2 linked regions of the Homo sapiens genome follow. The protein of the gene in region 2 purifies or fractionates together with the protein of the main gene of each other region. This does not show direct contact. Each region holds a gene or a part of one and is shown on either strand. Other genes may lie near its edges.

What was found. The genes of interacting proteins can lie anywhere in the genome.
Region 1: the proteins of MYBBP1A (region 2) and RSL1D1 purify together in Homo sapiens (affinity purification with mass spectrometry; 2 studies listed by BioGRID and IntAct, with this or other methods). This does not show direct contact.

What each region holds. Positions count from the first base shown.
Region 1 is NC_000016.10:11,848,533-11,856,164, reverse strand, and holds the start of RSL1D1 (ribosomal L1 domain-containing protein 1), read left to right. Parts: upstream 1-4,622; 5' UTR 4,623-4,652; coding exon 4,653-4,757; intron 4,758-5,746; coding exon 5,747-5,886; intron 5,887-7,632. UniProt on the Homo sapiens protein: Regulates cellular senescence through inhibition of PTEN translation. Acts as a pro-apoptotic regulator in response to DNA damage.
Region 2 is NC_000017.11:4,538,388-4,545,388, forward strand, and holds the end of MYBBP1A (myb-binding protein 1A), read right to left. Parts: intron 6,959-7,001; coding exon 6,872-6,958; intron 6,789-6,871; coding exon 6,639-6,788; intron 6,535-6,638; coding exon 6,364-6,534; intron 6,260-6,363; coding exon 6,102-6,259; intron 4,779-6,101; coding exon 4,526-4,778; intron 4,355-4,525; coding exon 4,229-4,354; intron 4,146-4,228; coding exon 4,077-4,145; intron 3,505-4,076; coding exon 3,397-3,504; intron 3,178-3,396; coding exon 3,076-3,177; intron 2,098-3,075; coding exon 1,961-2,097; intron 1,581-1,960; coding exon 1,028-1,580; 3' UTR 589-1,027; coding exon of another isoform or gene 553-588; 3' UTR 517-552; downstream 1-516. UniProt on the Homo sapiens protein: May activate or repress transcription via interactions with sequence specific DNA-binding proteins. Repression may be mediated at least in part by histone deacetylase activity (HDAC activity).

The sequences.
Region 1 (7,632 bases), on a different chromosome or scaffold from region 2:
AAACCCCGTCTCTACTAAAAATACAAAAATTTGCCAGGCACCGTGGCGCGTGCCTGTAATCCCAGCTACTCGGGAGGTTGAGGCATGAGAATCGCTTGAACCTGGGAGGGAGGGGTTGCAGTGAGCCGAGACTGTGCCACTGCACTACACTCCAGCCTGAGCGACAGAGCAAGACTCCATCTCAAAAAAAAAAAAAAAAAAAAAAAAAAAAAAAAAAACACACACACACACAAGAAGAGAAGCAGGTTTGAGAAGATGATGATTCACGACGGGACTTGCCGAGGATAAGGTCCTAATAGGACTTTTCCAAGACAGGTGAATATGTCTATGAGTCTGAAGACAGGAGGTATACTAATCTGTACTAGTTATCTACTGATGGATAACAAATTACCCCAATTTAGTGCCTTAAAAGAACACACATTTATGATATTACAGTTTTTATGGGTCAGGAATCTGGGAGCAACCTAGCTGAGTGGTTCTGGCTCAGGGCCTCTTGAGTTTGCAATCATCTCAAGGTTGGACCCGGGGAGGATCCACTTCCAACCTCACTTGTGTGGCTGCCCAAGTGTCCTCACAACATGGCAGCTGGCTTCCCTCTCTCCAGGGCTGCCTTACAAGTAATGAGGGAGGGAGTAAATGAGAGAGGGAAACAGGGAGAGAAAGAACATCAAAGATGAAACTACGGTCTTTTTTTTTTTTTGAGACGGAGTCTCGCTCTGTCACCCAGCTGGAGTACTGTGGTGAGATCTCGGCTCACTGCAAGCTCTGCCTCCCCCGTTCACGCCATTCTCCTGCCTCGGTCTCCCGAGTAGCTGGGACTACAGGTGCCCGCCACCAAGCCCGGCTAATTTCTTTTTGTATTTTTAGTAGAGACAGGGTTTCACCATGTTAGCCAGGATGATCTCGATCTCCTAACCTTGTGATCCGCCCGCCTTGGCCTCCCAAAGTGCTGGGATTACAGGCATGAACCACCTTCCCCGGGCCATGAAACTACAGTCGTTTTATAACCTAATCTCAGAAGTGATATAGCATCACTTCTGCCATATTGTTTCATAGAAGCAAGCCACTAAGTTCAGTGTATACTCAAGGGGAGGGAAACGAAGCCTCATTAGTTGAGGGGAGAGGTATCAAAGAATCCATAGATAGGACACATCTTTAAAACCACAATATCACAACCAGATTATTAACTTACCTAACGCATAAATCATCACTACCTTTTCTTCTCTACTGCCAGTTCAAAAACCTTTTATCTTTACAATTTCTCCAAAGTGAGTATAAACCCTCAGCTTGATAATGAATTCATTCCTTTACCTACTTTCCAAACTGCATCTCCCATTCCTCCCCTCTGCACATTCCTGCTCTAGCTATGTACTGCTTCCAAACACTTCCATACACTTTCACCAGCATTCATGCTGTGTCCTTGGCCTACAAGTATGGTTCTCAAACTTAAGTTCAGGTGAAAGAACATCTGATAGCCTCCATATTCTCAAGAATACTACAAAACATGGATCAACAAAGCCCAGTGTAACAATTCATTAAGCTGTGCTAAAAGGAAACCACTCTTACTAATAGATTCTAGAATACACAAAGGGAAGCAGGTGCCAATGATTTCAGAACATTTCTTCTACAACTTGATTAAACACAAGGCTATTACTAGAGATTAGCAGAACATCCTTTCATGGAAGGAACACCTTTTGAAAGCAATTGAAGGAAAGCCTATTACTCTCATTCCTCCATCTCTCAAAACTTTATATAACTAGTTGCAAAAAGTCTGAAACCAACCTGAAGGCGCCTAAAAAAGTTCCTAAATAAACTGTAGTGTTGTTGCATGGTGGAACACCACAGAGCCGTTTAAAAAGATGAGGCAGAGCTTTGTGTACTGACTTGGAACAATCTCCAAGGTATATTAAGAAGAAAAAGCAAGGTGCGGAACAATGGGTATACTAGGCTACTATATGTCTTTTTCTAAAAAGTAAAAGTTTGACCAGGTCCAGTGGTTTATGCATATTACCCCAGCACTTTGGGAGGCTGAGGTGGGAGGATCCCTTGAGGCCAGGAGTTCGAGACCAACCTGGGCAACATGGTGAGACCCCTCCCTGTCCTCATCTCTACAAAAAAATTGTAAAAGTTAGCAGGACGTGGTGACCTGAACCTTTAGTCCTACCTACTCGGGAAGCTGAAGCCGGAGGATCTGTTGAACCCAGCAGTTCCAAACTGCAGTAAGCTATAGTCATGACACTACACTCCAACCTGAGTGACAGAGCCAGACTCCGTTTCTTAAAAAAAAAAAAAAAAAAAAAAAAAAAAAAGGCTGGGCACAGTGGCTCACACATGTAATCCCAGCATTTTGGGAGGCCAAGGTGGATCACCTGAGGTCAGGAGTTCCAGACCAGCCTGGCCAACATGGACAAACCCCGTCTCTACTAAAAATACAAAATTAACGCCGGGCGCGGTGGCTCAGGCCTGTAATCCCAGCACTTTGGGAGTCCGAGGCGGGCGCATCACGAGGGCAGAGGTCAGATCGAGACCATCCTGGCTAACACGGTGAAACCTTGTCTCTACTAAAAATACAAAAAAAAAAAATTAGCCGGGCGTGGTGGCGGGCGCCTGTAGTCCCAGCTACTCGGGAGGCTGAGGCAGGAGAATGGCGTGAACCCAGGAGGCGAAGCTTGCAGTGAGCCAAGATCGCGCCACTGCACTCCAGCCTGGGCGACAGAGCAAGACTCCGTCTCAAAAAAAAAAAAAAAAAAAATTAGCCAGGCATGGTGGTGCATACCCGTAATCTCAGCTACTGGGGAGGCTGAGGCAGGAGAATAGCTTGAGCTCAGGAGGCGGAGGTTGCGGTGGGCTGAGATCTCGCCATTGCACTCCAGCCTGGGCAACAAGAGCGAAACTCTGTCTCAAAAAAAAAAAAAAAAGTAGCCGGGCATGGTGGCGTCCGCCTGTAGTTTCAGCTACTCGGGAGGCTGAGACAGGAGAACTGCTTGAACCCGAAAGGGAGAGACTGCAGTGAGACAAGATCACTGCACTCCAGCCTGGGCGTCAGGGCAAGACTCCCTCTTTAAAAAAAAATTGGCCGTGGTGGTTCACGCCTATAATCCTAGCACTTTGGGAGGCCGAGGCAGGTGGATCATGAAGTCCAGGAGTTCAAGACCAGCCTGGCCAGGATGGTGAAACCCCATCTTTACTAAAAATACAAAAATTAGCCGGGCGTTGTGGCGCGTGCCTGTAATCCTAGTTACTCGGGAGGCTGAGGCAGAGAACTGCTTGAACCCGGGAAGCGAAGGATACAGTGAGCCCAGATCGTGCCACTGCACTCCAGCCTGTGCGACAGAGCGAGACTCCATTACAAAAAAAAAAAAAAAAAAAAGGAAAAAAATTAATTAAACCCATCCAACAAGAGAAAGGAGAAGTATCTCCTAAACATGCCTAGAACATCTCTGGAAGGTTCCAGGAGACACTGGTAAGGGTACCTCTGGGGAGGCGGGTGGAGTGGGAGGAAGACATTACAAAGCAAACCTGTCCTACCCAAGGGCCGCGTGCGGCCCTGGAGGCCAGGCTTTGAATACAGCCCAACACGAATTCGTAAACTTCCTTAAAGCATTACGAGATTTTTTTTAGATTTTTTTTTTAAAGCTCGTCGGCTATCATTAGTATTAGTTTTATATATGGGCCCAGGCAATTCTTCTTCCAGTGTGGCCCACGGAAGCCAAAAGATTGGACTCCCCTGTTCTAAGGTATTCCATTTGTCAGTTATCCAGCCTCCACTCCTAACCTGTTTGTTTAGCGACAAGGTCTCACTCTACTGCCTACGCTGGAGTGCAGTGGCGCGGATCAGAACTCACCGAGCCTCGAATTCCTCAAGATCCTCCATCCTCCGCCTCCCAAGTAGCCGGGACTACAGGCGCGCACCACCACGCCGGCTAATGTTTATAATTTTTGGAGAGACGGAGTCTCGTATATGCACGGACTGGTCTCCAACTCCTGGAATCCCTCCGCCTCGGCCTCCCAGAGCGCTGGGATTCCAGACGCCAGCCACGCGCACGACCAGCCACGCTTATTTGTACAGGATCTTACCTCCCGCCTCTCTGCGAGACCAGAAGCTCCTAAGAGACTGGCCCAGACTCATCTTTCGGTCCCTCATGCTGCTTAACGTGGCAGGTCGGGTGGCTCCGGGTGGCTCCCGTGCCTTATATTTCAGGGACTCCTCACCAGCCTGGGGTTGGCGTCGCCTAAAGTCAACGGGCAGGTGGGCAGTGGAGCCAGGATTCCGCGCTCTGCCCATGCCACGCGCGGCCTTCCCGGAGGCGGGGACCGTGGAGTGTGGAGGACCCCACTGGGCCTCCTGACGGGACTCTTCTCTCGCCTCAAGGCGCTTTCTTGATTTCTATCTAGTAAGAGTGAGAGGACACCCAAGCTACTCCCCACAGCTCATGGAAAGCTGGAGAAAAGCGGAAGAGCAGGTGCCTCCTCAAAGAAGGGATTCTGACAGCAGCCACTGCCCCGGAGAGCGAAACCCCACGCTCTCCCGGAAATGACGCACAGAGGCTCGGTTCCCGCCCCCTCGCTTCCGGGGCCGGGCTTGCTCGCGCGTGCGCACCAGAAGCCAGCAGTGGGGTTGCACACGCGCCTCTTCACGAGGTGGAAACAAGATGGAGGATTCGGCCTCGGCCTCGCTGTCTTCTGCAGCCGCTACTGGAACCTCCACCTCGACTCCAGCGGCCCCGACAGCACGGAAGCAGCTGGATAAAGAACAGGTGAGTGGTTCCTGGGGAGGGTGGCTTGGAAGCAGTGTGGCGGTTACCTCGTGAGGCGCAGGGTGCCGGAACCCGAGTGCGTGCTCGGCGGACTTCCCCGGGGCTGTGGGACGGTCGCTGGCGGGCCGTGTGCCTCAGCTGTCTCTCCCCTTTACACACGTGGGTGGGCGCCTGCTTTCCCTGGTCCTGCGGCCTGGCGCTAGTGAATTGGGTTGCAAGTGTGCTGTGGAGCTAGATGAGATAGACCTGGCGACCTGGCTTAGCTTCCCTATCATTAGCGCTTGACCGAATCGCTTAGTTTTGCAGGTCTGTTACCCGTTATTTAAAGTGGGCCCTTCGGCTCCCCGTTATCCAGGATCGGGAGAGGTAATGAGTGTAAAGCGCTTTGGCCTGGTACATGGTAAGAAGGTGCTCAGTAGGCCGGGCGCGGTGGCTCACGCCTGTAATCCCAGCACTTTTGGAGGCCGAGGCGGGTGGATCACCTGAGGTCAGGAGTTCGATACCAGCCTGGCCAACATGGTGAAACCCCGTCTCTACTAAAAATACAAAAATTAGGTGGGCGTGGTGGCGGGCGCCTGTAATCTCAGCTACTCGGGAAGCTGAGGCAGGAGAATTGCCAGGAGTTCTCAGTAAATGCTAAATGCATTTTGCTTTGCGTTTTTCCTGGGATTACTGCTTTCATCATTGAGGGCAGGAGGGGCACGTTTCCCTCTAGCCCAATCTCTTTAAGTAGAAGAGGTGCCCTTCTGCACACAGTACTGGAAGTGGGTACTTAGGCATGTTTGATGGATTCTTAGATTTCTGTGAATATAAACTGCAGGATCCTAATAGATACGGTTATGGAGGTTACCCCTTGAAATAGAAGTTGGAAGGGAAAAAATAGAAGGTGTGGGAGGGGGCAAATGCTAAATTAGATTGAGAACATTTCATTTATTTGTGTAAGTTATTGTGAAAACATTTCACTTATTTGTCTAATTTCCACTTTGCAGGTTAGAAAGGCAGTGGACGCTCTCTTGACGCATTGCAAGTCCAGGAAAAACAATTATGGGTTGCTTTTGAATGAGAATGAAAGTTTATTTTTAATGGTGGTATTATGGAAAATTCCAAGTAAAGAACTGAGGGTCAGATTGTAAGTTGTGATTTTCTACCTTTGCTGTTTTTATCTGTGTGTTTATTCTTTGTAACTCGAACAATTGCATCATGGTTACTAATGGAAACTTTGCAAACTTATAATAAAAATCTGACGTGAAGTAAAACAACTATGTCCAAAAGAACCATAGAGGCTTGATGTGGTGGCTCACACCTGTAATCCCAGCACTTTGGGAGGCCGAGGTGGACGGATCACCTGAGGTCGGGAGTTCAAAACCAGCCTGGCCAACATGGTAAAACCCTGTCTCTCCAAAAATACAAAAATTAGCCAGGCATGATGGCGGGTGCCTGTAATCTCAGCTACTCGGGAGGCTGAGGCAGGAGAGTGGCAGTGAGCGGAGATGTCTCCATTGCACTCCAGCCTAGGCGACAGAGCAAGACTCTGTCTCAAAAAAATAAAAAATAATAAAAAATAAAAGAACCGTAGAAATTCAGATGTGCTAAAATTTTCTAGAAATTTCACCAGTTTTCTTAGAGCTTGGTGGACAGCTAACGTAATCAGGTCTGTTGAATCGAAAACGTGGTGTTCGAAAGAATAAAGGTGGAATAAGTTAAACAGCTTTATTTTATTTTATTTTTTTATTAGAAACTGTTATCTTTCCATGTCAAGCAAAAATTCTTTGGGGCTACAATTTATTCCTTTGTACAGAGACTATTAAAAACTGCAGTGAATTTCTGTCTATGGAAAAGAAATCCATGGTGATTATACAGAATGCTTCTTCAGAACATAGGTTGTAAGCATAAGAAATGAGTTAAACCCTTGTATTTTATTTTCTGTAAGATGTGGCATAATTGTGTTTGCTGGTCCCTCTTGGTTTAGTCCATGTTTTTGGTTTCGATTCTTTTATCTCTCCTTTTTTTTTTTTTTTTAAGAGACGAGATCTTGCGCTGTTGCCCAGCTGGAGTACAATAGTGAGATCTGTGTTCACTGCAACCTCAACCTCCCTGACCTGACTCAAGTGATCCTCCCACCTCAGCCTTCCAAGTAGCTGGGACTACAGGTGCACACCACCATGCCTAGCTAATTTTGAAATCTTTGTGGAGATGAGGTTTCACTGTGTTCTCCAGGCTGGTCTCGAACTCAGGCTCAAGCAGTCCTCCCTCTCAGTCTCCCAAAGTGTTGGGATTACAGGCATGAGCCTCCATGCCTGGGCTGTTTCAATTCTTAAAAGTTATGTTATGCTGGGCATGGTGACTCATCCCTGTAATCTCAGCACTTTGGGAGGTGAGGTGGGTGGATCATTTGAGGCCTGGGAGTTTGAGATCATCCTGACCCAACATGGCGAAATCCCATGTCTCCTAAAAATACAAAAATTAGCCAGACATGATGGTGGGCGTCTGTAATCCCAGCTGTTTGGGAGGCTGAAGTGCAAGAATCATTTGAACCCAGGAGGCAGAGGTTGCAGAGACTCCAGCCTGGGCGACAGTGAGACTCCCATCTCAAAAAAAAAAAAAAAAGTTATGTTGGCTGAGTGTGGTGGCTCACACTGTAATCTCAGCAGTTTGGGAGGCTGAGGCAGGTGGATTGCTTGAGCCCACAAATTCAAGACCAGCCCAGGCTATGTGGCGAAACCCTGTCTCTACGAAAAATACAAAAATTAGCTGGGCCTACACCCAACTGGTACGTGCCTGGAGTCTCAGCTATGCTGGAGGCTATCGTGAGCTATGATCACACCACTGCACTGCAGCCTTGGGTACTGAGCAAAACCCTGTCTCAAAAAAAGGA
Region 2 (7,001 bases):
CTGCCCCAGAGCTGAGGCTGAGGCCCCGGGAGAGGCGGCCCCTACCCAAACACTGGCTGCTGGCATTCCACCAAGTGACCCCAGGGGGGGGCCAGGCCTTCGATCACCCACCTCCCATCCATGCACACACCAGGATGCAGCTGCCAACTTCACACCAGCCCCAACCCGCTTTGGGGGAGCTTAGCCCCCTGCGTCACCCACTCCCTGCACTTCTGCTGCAATCAAGGTGGTTCTGGTGCGGGGGTGGGGTGGGGGGTGAGGCCTTGTGGCCAATGGGGGACCCCCCAAGAGCCAGCTTGGACAATGCTCTTCTTGCCCCTTAGTTACTGGCTGGCTGTGGCTTCAGTGGTGTGTAAGCAGGTGGAATACTCACCCACCAAGCTCTGGGGTACCCCGAGGGCCTGACAAGAGGATGGGGTGGGGGTGGCATCCTCCAAAGACCAGCCTCCACCCCCACTCCAGCCTCAGCGGGGCCCCAGCGATGTTTTCTTGTTGTACAAGAACCAGGTCCGAGTGTTGCCTCCTCTTCCTTCCGGAAGCCAAACTGCTCCTTTATTTTTTAGAGCTGCTGATTGTGAATCTCAGAGTCTTAAGAGAGAAGCCAAATATATTCCTCTTGTAAATGAAGAAATAAACCTATTTAAATCACCCCCTGGTGGCTCCCTCACAGCAAAAAAGCCTGGGGGCAAAGAGGTGGCAGGCACGAGAGATGGTCACACCTGCCTGCAGCCAGCACATCAACCTGCACCAACCCAGGCAAACACCAGAGCCCTGGACATGGCCCTGGAGCCAGGGTCCCAGCCCAGAACCGGGGGTGGGGAGGTCTCTGCACCCTGGGACCCCTGCAGGAATGGCTCAGGCTGTGCTTGCCAGAGCAGGATGCCCGGGCAGGCGGCAACAGCCACCCTCCCCAGTGGCAGCGCCTTAGAAACAGCTTGCGTATTAAAATCATGGTTTAAAAAAAAAAAAAAAAAATAGGCGTCTCAGGCAGATGGAGGCAGGGGCTGAGGGGGGCCCGTACCTGTGCTCAGGGCTTCCCTGCCTTCCTCACCTGTGCTTTCTTCTTGGCCCCACTCTGAAGCAGGCTGGGACTCCTGATGACCAAAGACAGCCTTGCCTTTTTCCGTGCCAGCGCGGACAGTGGTGATTTGCCCAAGACCCCCTTTTTGGGAAGAGCCTTCTGATGCTGCTTTTGGCCTGCAGGTTCCGTGGGGGACCCGGGAGCTCCATTCACCTGGGACGGCTTCTGGTTTTTCTTCTGCAGTTTTGGGGATTTGGCAGGGGTGCTGGGGCTCCGGGTGGGGGCGCCAGGGGCTGGACTCTTGGTGGTTGGCGTCCCGTTTGCCTGGGCTGGGACCTTAGCCTTTGTCCTGTTCCTCTTCTTCCTGCCCATGCTGGGGGGCTGGCTCCCGCCGGTGGCTGCAGGTGTGCCATCCTCCGCTGGCGTGCCATCCTCTGACTTGCGTTTCTTGCGCTTCTTCGTCTCTGGCAAGAATCCCTTTTTCTTCCGCTTCTTACTGATGGGGCTCTGGGTGGCACTGGGGATCTCCTTGGCATCCTTCTTCTCCAACTTGGGGCGCCTGAAGGGAAGTGAGCAAGGTTAGAAGGTGCCCATCGAGGGCAGCAGCCACCGCCACCGCGACTGCTACCTCCACCTGGATTCTGAGGGTCCTCTGAGGCCCCTAGGTTCTGTGAGGCCCCTATGAGGGTCCCGTGAGGGTCCTATGAGGGTCCTGCGAGGCCCCTGGGTCCTGCGAGGGTCCTGCGAGGCTCCTGCGAGGGTCCTGTGAGGGTCCTACAGCTCCCACATCTGAGAATGCGCTTGAGTGCATGTGTGTGCAGCAGCATGCGTGTGCAGTGTGCGTGTGCAGCAGCGTGTGTGCAGCGTGTGTGTGTGTGCAGCAGCGTGAGGGTGTTCCCAGCCCCTACCCAAGGTGTGTGTCCCCCTCCCAGAACCTACTGGACTCCCAGGGTTTTCATGGCCTGCCAGTAGAGGTCGTGCAGGCGGCTGGAGCCGGTGGAGTGTGCCCCCTGCTGTAGGCTCTGCTGTTGCCCCTGCAGCACACCCAGGAGCACCGTCAGGTCCAAGGTCAGCTTCTGCAGAGGGTGGGAAGGCAGAGCTGTGGGGCCACAGAGGGCGGGGCCTCTCGCGGGCTCCCAGTCTTCCCACCTCTGCCCTGTTGCTGCCTCACCAGTGACCCCTGCCCCTTCCTGGGCCTCAGCCTCTCCTTCTGCCTGTTAAGTCATCCGTGTCTCTTACCGAGGGAGGAAACACGCGCCCCAGGTGTTGGTTCTCCTCCTTCCCATAGCCAAAGGCCTGGTCTCAGAGTCTCGGTGTCCTCCCCTCCAGCAGTGGCCCGGGCCCACCCACCTCCAAGAGGGCCACTCCCCAGCACTCCATCACCGCGGGGCTGCCAAAGCGCTTCCCCACCCAACCCTGCCACCTTCCTGCACATCCTGAATGGGTTATTGTTGGAATCCGCCAGCTTCCGGGAGCCCTGCTCTCCTGGCTTCCTCACTATCAGCCAGTTTTGTAAGGCCCCGTCCCGGGCCCCGCCTCTGCCTGCCAGCACCCCCTTGGCAAGCTCTCCCTCCACAAGGGCTGACTAGCACCTATGCTGAAGATTCCCAAACCCCGCCCTCTGGGCCAGACCGGGGGACCCAGATGGCCACCTCCAGCTGCCTCCCAGCCCTGCCCTGATGGCTGCCCACACTCCTGTACCAGGCCTGGAAACCTGGCTGCTCACCCTGAATCTTCTCCAACCCTTCCACAGTCTCCAGCCCTGCCAGCCCCTTCTCGGCTTTCTCACGGGATGTGGCAGTGCCACCCCACCCCCTCTCACCCCGCCCTGCAGGAGGAGGACAGGGTGGCACAGTCCCTTCCCAAGTCACTCACCCATCCATGGTTTGGTAACTGCCCAAATGGCAGCCCAGAGCCCTGGCCCAGGCACTGAGAAGTTTCCCCACATGACCCCCATCCCTGCAGTCCAGCCCGGGCATGGCACTGCTGGCCGGGAGGCCCCAAGGCCCCCAAGAGGAACCCGAACACGACCGCGGACTGGGCCCCCGCCTCACCTCATGTTTGCAGGTCCTGAAGAGAACGTTGAGCAGCTCCAGGGAGGACAGTGCCTGCTGATGCTGCGCCTTGGTCTGCGCCTCCCCCAGCACGCGCAAGTTCTAGGGAAGGGTGGCCAGGCTGAGGCACTCCGGAGAGCTGCTCAAAGCCTTTCTGTTTCCCAGCCGGAAGTAAAGCCCAGAGGCAGGGACCGTCTCCTGGGACAACCCCAGTTCTCCCGACTCTGGACTCAGGCTCCAATCCTCACTTCTTTCCCAGAGATCGGTCTCCCGGAGAACTGATTCTGAGGGGGTGGGGAAAGGGCGCCCCCCGGCTGTTACCTCGGTGACCTTTGCTAGGACCTGGCCCATCAGCTGCTTCCACTCGGGGTCCTCAAAGCACGACCTCACCTCCCGCATGGACAGGGTCTTCTGGAGCAGCAGGCAGGCCTGTGGGTGGGCAAAGGTGGGTGGCAGGAGCCTTGGCACGTTGGGTGCTCACGGCTCAGGGATGCATGAGGGCTCGGGGGCCCGCTGGGCACTGCTGTGGGCAGCGTGTGAGGCTGCCTGCTGCTCTGGGCTCTGTGACTACCTGCTCCTGTGCCTTTGTGTGCAGGTGGGGACACCAAGGCCTCCCAGCTGGATAGAGGTGGGACCTCAGGTTGGGACAATTCCTGCCCATTATTGGCTTAGTGCCATCTTCCTCCAGCCTGCCCCCAACAGCCCTGGCACCAGAGCAGACACTACCAGGGGCATCCTGTGTGTGGCCAGATGGGCAGCAGTGGCTGCGGGAGTGAGGCTGGCCCTGCCCCCTCAGCTCCTGTGTGTTCACTGTGTGGCAGGGGCCAGGGCACGGCCACCCCCTTCAGAGACCATGTACCCACAGCCAAGCCAGTGGGGCAGGGACAGCTGTGCCCGTGCTCACCAGGACAGCGCTCTGGGGCCTCACAATATCCAGTCAGAAGAGGGTTAAGCGGGTTAATTCAGACAGGCCCTGGGCTGGGAGCTGGGAAGTCTCTCACCTGATGACGGGGCCGCACCGGGCCCGTGATATGCTGGACCAGGATGGGGAGCAGGCTCTGACAGAGCACCTGGTGGGGAGTGACAAGGGCTGTGAGGTGCAGGCTGGGCTGAGCAGGGACCATGAGGAAGCAGGGCAGGCCCCAACACTCACCGGGTGCCGGGAGAAGAGGCTGAGGAACATGGGAACTGTGAGGGGGCTGTTGCGCTTGGTCAGGAAGGAGCTCAGTGCTGTCGAGTACACCCGGGTCACCAGGTTCAAGTCCAAGCAGCTGGCAGCCTAGGCCAGGGGAGAGCGAGCTGGGTGAGGCCAGGAGAGGGGTCCCTGGGATGGGAGCAGAGCCTGGCCTACCTTCATCAGAAGGCTGAGGGTTGGGCCCTGGGGAAGTCCCGGCCTCCACTCCCTGGCTGTGAAATGCCTGGGGCTGCTCCTGGGCCAGGCCCTGCTCACCTGCGGGCCCGTGGGCATGTGGCTGGGGTCAGTGCCAGCTTTCTGCTTCTCCTGTGTCTCATGCACGCAGCCCTCAGCAGTGTTGCCCTTCAAGACCCGGAGCAGGTAGAGAGAGGCGTTGAAGTGGTAGAGGGCGGTGGGGGAGTCGGGCTGGCGGCCAGCCTGCTGCACCAACCGCTCCACCTGGGCGTGCAGGGCCCCTGCGCGCTCACCCAAGTCGTGGCAGTAGCGCCGGGCACGGCACAGGTGGTGCCTGTGGGTGGTGAGGACGAGAGCTGGTCAGAACATTCTCGGTCCACCCTGCTCCGCCAAGCAGAGCCAACCCAAGTCCCACTTTATAAGTGGGGAAACAGACCTAGAAGACGACAGAGGCGACCCAGGCCACAGAGGAGGGCCCAGGGCCGCCTGCAGGCTGCCTGGAAGCTGTGTGGGCTCAGAGTGCTGGGGTGACAGGGGCGCTCCAGGGGAGAACAGAACAGCTCCCTGAGTGGAGGCTGCACCAAGGGCCAACTGCCTGCCTGGGGCACCCCTCCTGTCTACACTTGTCTCTCATGGGGCAGTGGCCTTCAGGCCTTTTGTAAAGCGAGACAAGGGTTCATGTGCTTAGAACCCTCTGTGGCCCTGCAGGGCCGGGGATATAATGGGGGCAAGAGGCAGGATGCTCAACAAACGACACTGTCCACGCACGCTGGCAGAACTATCTGAGAAGGCGTGGCCCGGGCGGGCCTGGGTTTGTGAAGAATGCACTGCCAGTCACACTCCCCACCCCTCCTGACTATCCACGCAGCGCCCCAGCTCCCAGGCCTTCACCTCCCCAGCACCTGAGCTCTGAAGGCAGGTCTACCAGGTGCCTGCCTGTCTCTCCCACGCCTGCCACCGCCTCCCTCCTGGGCCCTCTGCCTCCAGCACAGCCCCTCCCAAACCCTTCTCCACGCTGCCAGCCGTTTCTGAAAAGGCAAACCAGACTCAGACCCTTCCCCACGCCACTGCTCTTGCTGATAATGCCTCTGTGGCCTCCAGCACCGCTAGGGTCAGGGCCTGCGAGGGTGCGGGGGTCTGTGGCCTCGCTGCTTGCCTGACCTTCCAGCTGCGTGTCTGACCAGCTCCCGTCAGGATGCTCTTCCTCCCTTTCTGCCCTGCCCAAGGCCTCCCAGCCTGACAAACTCCCATGCACACTACACCTCCGAGGACTGGGTTGGGTGTCCCCTGCCACAGGTGCACCCACTGTCCCCCTCCACCCCAGCACAGCCCCACTTGAGACTGTCAAGGGCAGGGATGGACCCCAGCTCCAGGGCACTGTTGGCACAGCCCCACTTGAGACTGTCAAGGGCAGGGATGGACCCCAGCTCCAGGGCACTGTTGGCACTGTGTCGGGAGAACGCGGGGATGAAGCAAGGACTGTGGGAATCACTAAGTGACGTGTGCCTCTAGGGCTGAGCAGTGAGCCTGCGAGCTAGGGGCCCAGGCTGGAAGCTTGGCTCTCTCCTTCCTGTGCAGACAGCAAGCCTAGAGCTCTGGCTCTCCTGCGCCTGGGGGCTGCCGGCCACACCTGCCCGCCCTGCACCCCCGTGCTCACGTGAAGATGCGCGCCGTCTTGTGCAGAAGGTCCTGCTCCTGTTTGGAGCTGCTGCTGCGCAGGCTGCGCCGGATGATGCTCAGCAGCGGCTCCAGCAGCTCCAGGACCAGGGCATTCTCGGGCTGCTTGGTCACTAGCACCTCCACCAGGTCCAGCACCTGCAGCCAGGAGGGCAGGTCAGCAACACGGGGGTGGGCGCACAGGGAGGCGGGGGTGGGCGCACAGGGAGGCGGGGGTGGGTGCGGCCCGCCCCCAGGCTCACCCGGATCTGGAAGTCGCGCCGCAGAGCCTTCTCCTTCTGCAGCTTGTTCTTCTCGTCTCGCCGGGCCTGGATACGCAGCTTCTGCTCGGCAAAGAGGCTGGCGAGGCTCTGGTCCAGGGCCATCATGGCCTCATCCCCCAGCTCCTCCTCGTTCTCACTGTCCTCTCCACCCTGAGGGACAGAGGCCCAGCGGTCAGCCAGGCCTCGGGCAGGCACACAACATGGGGACACCCGAGCCCTCCCCGGCCGCCCCCCCCTCCACCTCCCCCACTCACCAGCGCCTTCCCAGCCTGCAGCACGGTCATCAGCTGTTCCCGGAAGCCCTGATCCACGTCCCCGTCGCGCTCCTCCTCCTCGCTCTCCTCCCCCTCGCTCTCCTCTTCACTCTCTGAGCTTCTGTTGTCCTCACCTTCCTCGCTCTTGTCCTGTGTGGTAGAGGCAGGCGCGTCACACACCTCCCCGATCGTCCCACTCCCCACCGCCCCCGCCCGGCCCATGCTGGCAACACCTCTGCACCCTTCAGCCGCCGCTCATCAGAATCGTCCGTCACCACCACACGGTCATTCTCATCCTCACTGGTCTCGGGGTTCAGCACCTGGGGAGGGGTGCCAGCCACTGACCCATTTGCAGCCCCCGCC